Linked DNA regions of Homo sapiens: region 1 is linked to region 2. Evidence: fine-mapped QTL for protein levels in blood plasma. A gene starts in region 2. The other region holds a variant in brackets. All regions are shown on one strand. Distances are from middle to middle.

What was found. PIP is the posterior inclusion probability: the model's chance that the variant is causal. The UK Biobank Pharma Proteomics Project read protein levels with antibody pairs (Olink). The fine-mapping took linkage between variants from a reference panel, not from the people measured, so its PIPs are less certain.
Region 1: its variant is fine-mapped to the plasma level of the ITGB5 protein (UK Biobank, PIP above 0.99). The variant lies in the coding sequence of ITGB5. If it changes the protein, the assay may bind it differently, which can mimic a change of level.

The regions. Positions count from the first base shown.
Region 1 is chr3:124,794,715-124,797,609 of GRCh38, reverse strand. It overlaps ITGB5 (integrin subunit beta 5), which reads left to right. Exons shown (of 15, transcript NM_002213.5): 10 at 793-1,222. LOC124909422 (a long non-coding RNA gene) reads left to right here and starts at 1,235. Exons shown (of 2, transcript XR_007096043.1): 1 at 1,235-2,895. The variant G/A (reference allele first, on the strand shown) is at 1,103.
Region 2 is chr3:124,885,732-124,888,626 of GRCh38, reverse strand. ITGB5 (integrin subunit beta 5) reads left to right here and starts at 1,262. Exons shown (of 15, transcript NM_002213.5): 1 at 1,262-1,696. The coding sequence starts at 1,627. RefSeq lists enhancers at 1-769, 2,538-2,895 and silencers at 884-1,323, 1,784-1,873.

The sequences.
Region 1 (2,895 bases), 91 kb after region 2:
CCCATCCAGGCCCACCTTGAGCCTGTTTTCAAGGCAATCTGTGAGAAGCTCCTGAGTGAGAAACACTTCCTTACATATTCTGTTTAAAAAGAAAAGGTCTGTCCATGTGCATGGTGCATTTCATCAGTTGGAGACTCTTCTTTAAGACCTCAGGGGCATGGGGGGATTGTGAAAGATGCAGCTATGACAAGCACTCACAGAGGAGGAATTGGGGCACGGGGGACTCGGGGGTGTCTGGAGAGCAAGCTCTGGAGTCAGCTGAGCCCTTTGCCAGCAGGCACAGAGCCCTCTCTATGGCGGGCCAGGTGGGTGCCCTTCACCCGGCACCCTGTGAGAGTGCCATTGTGCCTGGCACAGAGGCAGCGCCCAGGAAATGTTTTTCCACCAAATGACTTTTTAAGTGAGCAGAGAAGAGGCATCTGCAGCGGGGCTGGGAAGAGGATAGGACAGAAGAGAAAAGAAAGGGAGAATAAGAACTGTGTGAACTCAAGGAAGCCCTATAGCTTTCCGCAGGGGCCCATTTCCTCAGGGTCATGGGGATGCAAAGAGATAATGAATGTTAAAGAATTCACCTGTCAAATGTGAGCTCACCTGTGCATTCTCTTCTCCATGAAGCATGGGAGCTTGCTGGTTCTGAGGTCTCTTCCTACTCCGGCCATCTTGGTGGTTCTACCTGAGTGCGTGGAGAGGGCTGGAGTTCGCAGCTGCTCTTCATCAAGGGCCCTGCCCCTGGGTGAATGGGAGACCCTGGCTTGCCGCAGCCATGATATCCCTTCTCTTCCTTCTGCCCAGGCATCTTTTGAAGTATCATTGGAGGCCCGAAGCTGTCCCAGCAGACACACGGAGCATGTGTTTGCCCTGCGGCCGGTGGGATTCCGGGACAGCCTGGAGGTGGGGGTCACCTACAACTGCACGTGCGGCTGCAGCGTGGGGCTGGAACCCAACAGCGCCAGGTGCAACGGGAGCGGGACCTATGTCTGCGGCCTGTGTGAGTGCAGCCCCGGCTACCTGGGCACCAGGTGCGAGTGCCAGGATGGGGAGAACCAGAGCGTGTACCAGAACCTGTGCCGGGAGGCAGAGGGCAAGCCACTGTGCAGCGGGC[G/A]TGGGGACTGCAGCTGCAACCAGTGCTCCTGCTTCGAGAGCGAGTTTGGCAAGATCTATGGGCCTTTCTGTGAGTGCGACAACTTCTCCTGTGCCAGGAACAAGGGAGTCCTCTGCTCAGGTAAGTGTCCCCAGCAAGCACTTTAGCTCTGAGCCAGGCCAAGATGCCGTTAGGACACCCTCCCAAAGCCTGCCTTTTACTCAGTGGTGGTAGAAAGTGTCACTACCATGGCTCTCCTTGGAGAAGACAGTGGGCAAGCCTTGCTACCCGTAGGCAGGAGGTGGGGATCTGTGTGCAGAATACGAAAGCAGAAGGTATTGCCATAAATTGTGGACTCTCAGAATTCGAGGGGCCTGCGTGGGTCATCCACCTTACTTCCCAATTCATGCAGGACTGGCCTGCACAGCATTCCTGACAGGTAGAGATGTTCAGCCTCTTCTTGATTGCCTCCTGGGACGGGGAACTCACTGGGGCTGGCAGTGGCCATCTGTCCCTTAGCCAATGAACTCATATCTTATTGCTGCTCCCATAACTCACCACAAACCTGTTGGCTTAAAATAATACACATTTAATCCATTACAGTTCTGGAGGCCAGAAGTCTGAAATGGATCTTATTTGGCTAGAATCAAGGTGCCAGCAGGGCTGCATACCTCCTAGAAGCTCCAGGGGAGAATCTGTGTCCCGGCCTTTTCCAGTTCCTAGAGGCCACCTGTATTCTTTGGCTTGCAGCTCCTTCTTCCATTTTCAAAACCAGCAGAGTAACATCCTCAGATCTCTCTGACTCTGACCTCTGCTTCTGTTGTCAAATCCTTCTCCCTCTCCTACAGACCCTTGTGGTTACAAGGGACCCTCAGTCGAACCCTGGAAAGTCTCCCCATCCCCAGGTCCTCAGCTTACTCACATCTGCACAGTCCCTTTCACCACGTAAGGCCACACAGTCACAGGTTCCAGGGATTAGGATGTGGACATCTCTGGGGGCTCTTATTTTTCCTGCCAGAATTCCTCTTTTTTTTTTTTCTGAGATGGAGTCTCACTCTGTTGCCCAGGCTGGAGTGCAATGGCAGGATCTCGACTCACTGCAACCTCTGCCTCCCAGGTTCAAGCAATTCTCCTGCCTCAGACTCCCGAGTAGCTGGGATTATAGGCGCCCGCCACCACACTCGGCTAATTTTTGTATTTTTAGTAGAGACGGGGTTTCACCATGTTGGCCAGGCTGGTCTTGAACTCGTGATCTCAAGTGATCCATCCACAGCCTCCCAAAGTACTGGGATTATAGACGTGAGCCACTGTGCCCGGCCCAGAATTCCTCTTTATACTGAAGAGAAACTTGTTTCTCAATAACTTCCTCCCAATGGTTAACATTCTAGAGTCCCCCTTCCACGTGACAACCTGTCAAACATCTAAAAGCTGCTTTATGTTTCTCTGTTCTCTCTTCTGATCTAGGCTAGACACCCCAAGTCTCTTCCTTGTCCGAGGGTGCTATCATTTGTGAAGCATGCTTCACATAATCAAGTGCGTTACTTGTCATGCTGGATGATGAGGGCTTGGTCCAGGGTTCAGTGAAGCATGCGTTTCCTGTGATTTGGACATTCTGCTTACATGGATGCACCCTGACAATACATTCACCTTTTTTTATTTTCTTCTTCTTCTTCTCCTTCTCCTCCTCCTTCTCCTCCCTTCTCCCTTCCTCTCTCTCTCTCTTTCTTTCTTGTTTCTTTTTTTTTTTGAGATGAAGTCTCGCTCTGTTGCCTAGGCTGGAGTGCAGTGGCACAATCTCAGCTCACTGCAACCTG
Region 2 (2,895 bases):
GTAGGGTTGTCGGAGGATGAAATGAGTTAATATGGGTAAAGGACTTAGAACAGTGCCTGGCTGGCAGTGTGCTCTCTGTACTTGGTAGGTATTCTATCGTTATTTTCCCCTACCTGAATGTCGCCTCTTCTCTTGCCTATCAACCACTCCACTCTAAACGCACTTGTAGCGAATCCAAGCCCAAGGCATCCTTTCCTGCACCATCTGAGGAAGACCCCACCCCACTCTTTATTGGCTAGTTCAGATCCAGCTTATATGTAAATGATAAGATGAAAGCCTGAGCATATGTTTTTGAGTCTATCAGTTTGATCATGGAAACTGACAGATTATCAGTAAGGACAACGAAATATAGCGGCATATTGGCCAGTCTCAAATCCTTGAAAGGTGCAAAAGTTAAAAAGTGAAAAGTGGGCCGGGCACGGTGGCTCGCACCTGTAATCTCAGCACTTTAGGAGGCAGACACAGGAGGAATGCTTGAGCCCAGGAGTTCAAGACTAACCTGAGCAACACAGCGAGACCCCCATCTCTACAAAACATGTAAAAATTGTCCGGGTGTGGTGGCGCGCGCCTGTAGTCCCAGTTACTCAGGAGGCTAAGGTGGAGGAACCTTTGAGCCCAGGAGGTCCAGGCTGCAGTGAGCCAAGACTGGGCCAGTGCACTCCAGCCTGAGTGAGAGCAAGACGCTGTCTCAAAAAAAAAAAAAAAAGAAAAGAAAAAGAAATGTAGGTTTTACTTGTGCCTCCACGCCCCACCACGCCCTCCCTTGCTCATCCAGAAGTCGCTTTGCGGTTCCACGCGCGGGCGTCTACGTCCCATCTCAGGCCGCCGGCAGTGAGGCTTTGGGAGGATGAGGCGGTACCGGCACGACCCCCGTACCTGCTCTCCCTCTCGCAGTCTAGCAACCGCCTTTGGCCCAAGTAATCTCGGCTCGCCTAATACAGCGTGCCCCGCCCCTTTCCCGTGGCGACGGGCGGCTAAGCAACGGGAGCGGGCTCTACTCAGTGGTTTCGAGCCCCCCACGCCCCAAGTGAGTCGCAAGCGACTTCCACCTGGGCCCGTAGGGCCTCCGCGTCCCGGGCCGGTCCCCGCACAGGGCGGAGCTGGCCCGGCCCGGAGCTCGCCCCGCCCCGCCTCACCGTAAGCTGACCGTGTGGCGGCCGGGCGAGGGCCTGGCAGGGGAGAGAAGGGGAGGAGAAAGGAGAGGAGGAAAGTGGAGCCTGGCGGGCCGGAGGGAGGAAGGGAAGGGGCGGAGGCCAGGGGCAGAGTGTGCCGGCGCGCGGGGGAGTCTCGGCGCTGGGCGCGTCTCGGAGCCCAAGTCGCGGCCGCCGAGCGGAGCCAGCCCCTCCCCTACCCGGAGCAGCCCGCTGGGGCCGTCCCGAGCGGCGACACACTAGGAGTCCCGGCCGGCCAGCCAGGGCAGCCGCGGTCCCGGGACTCGGCCGTGAGTGCTGCGGGACGGATGGTGGCGGCGGGGCGCGGGCCAGCGCGGGCGCCGTGAGCCGGAGCTGCGCGCGGGGCATGCGGCTGCGGCCCCCGGCCCTCGGCCCCCGCGCTCCGGCCCCAGCCCCGGCCGCCGGCCCCCGCGGAGTGCAGCGACCGCGCCGCCGCTGAGGGAGGCGCCCCACCATGCCGCGGGCCCCGGCGCCGCTGTACGCCTGCCTCCTGGGGCTCTGCGCGCTCCTGCCCCGGCTCGCAGGTAAGCCGCGCCGCCCACGGCGCCCAGAGAAACTTTGTCGCACACTCAGCCGCGGGCGGGCGTCTCGGAGGGGCGGGGAGCGCAGGCGGTGCCTGAGGGCGGAGGGCGCCTTCGGGGCACTCCCTGGTGGGCCAGTCGCTGGGGGACAGCCCCGCGGGGCGCTCCCCGCGCGCAGCCCCGCCGGGCTGTCGTGAGTCTCCTGTTCCCTCCCGGGCTGAGGAGGAGCTTCCCTTCCTGTGTAAACAGGCTGGCCGGCCTGCTGACCTAGCCCGCCAGGGCCCGCGCCCAGGGCACGGGGAGGACCGCCGCCAGCCCTGCCTTGGGGCCCGGGCTCTCCGTTGGCGGGCACAAAGCGGTCCTTGTGGCCGGCCGGGAGCGGGCGGGCTGCTGGGGGGATGCCGTCGGTGCCCTGTTCCCGGAGAAGCAAGGGAGTCTCGAAACCCCAGCCAAAGCCCGGGGCCACCTCCACTCCGGAGGGCTCGCCTCCTGGAACAGCGGGTGCACAGGGCCCACAGCGAATCCTGGAGTTCGCTGCGCCTAGGCTAGCCGCCTGCCTTTGAAGATGCAGCCCCCACCCTCCCCGCCCCCCGCCTGCTTCCTCCTCGCCTAGGCCACCGCAAACCCGAGGGGGCACCCGCGTCCCAAACCACAGCCCCACCTGGGACTTCCCTATTAAATTCCTTCTGCCCGACTTTATCCCGCGATTTGCACACGCTCGGAGCCTCACACTCCCCTAACTGTGGAGGATTCTGGAGCAGAGGACAGGGGCTGTGGAGATTGCCTTAGCCCGACGCTGCGGTGGGCTGGCAGCGTTGCAAGGATCCCTCGGTTACCTGCTCTAACTTTTCAGAGTTGGGAGATGATTGGACGTGGTAGTTTGGAGGCCCTCGAGGAAGGATGCACTTGTTTGGGATGCGGATTTTCTCCTTTCTTTTAGGAAATAATAGTGCTCTATTAACTTTCAAGCCGGAGATACTTGATTGCTCTTGTGAGCCAAGTGGTTGCCTGGCTGCCCGAAGGGAGGACTGTTCCCCCACGGTGTCTCATTTACATGAAGGCAGTGGAGGTTTAGGTTTAAGAGCGGAGGAGGGGTCTGAGCAAACAATAACTTCGTTCAGACCCTAATTCAAACTTAATACTGTAGCAAGGTTTTTGGTTTTTGTTTTAAATGGGAAAATAATCACTCCAGAGCTTGGAGA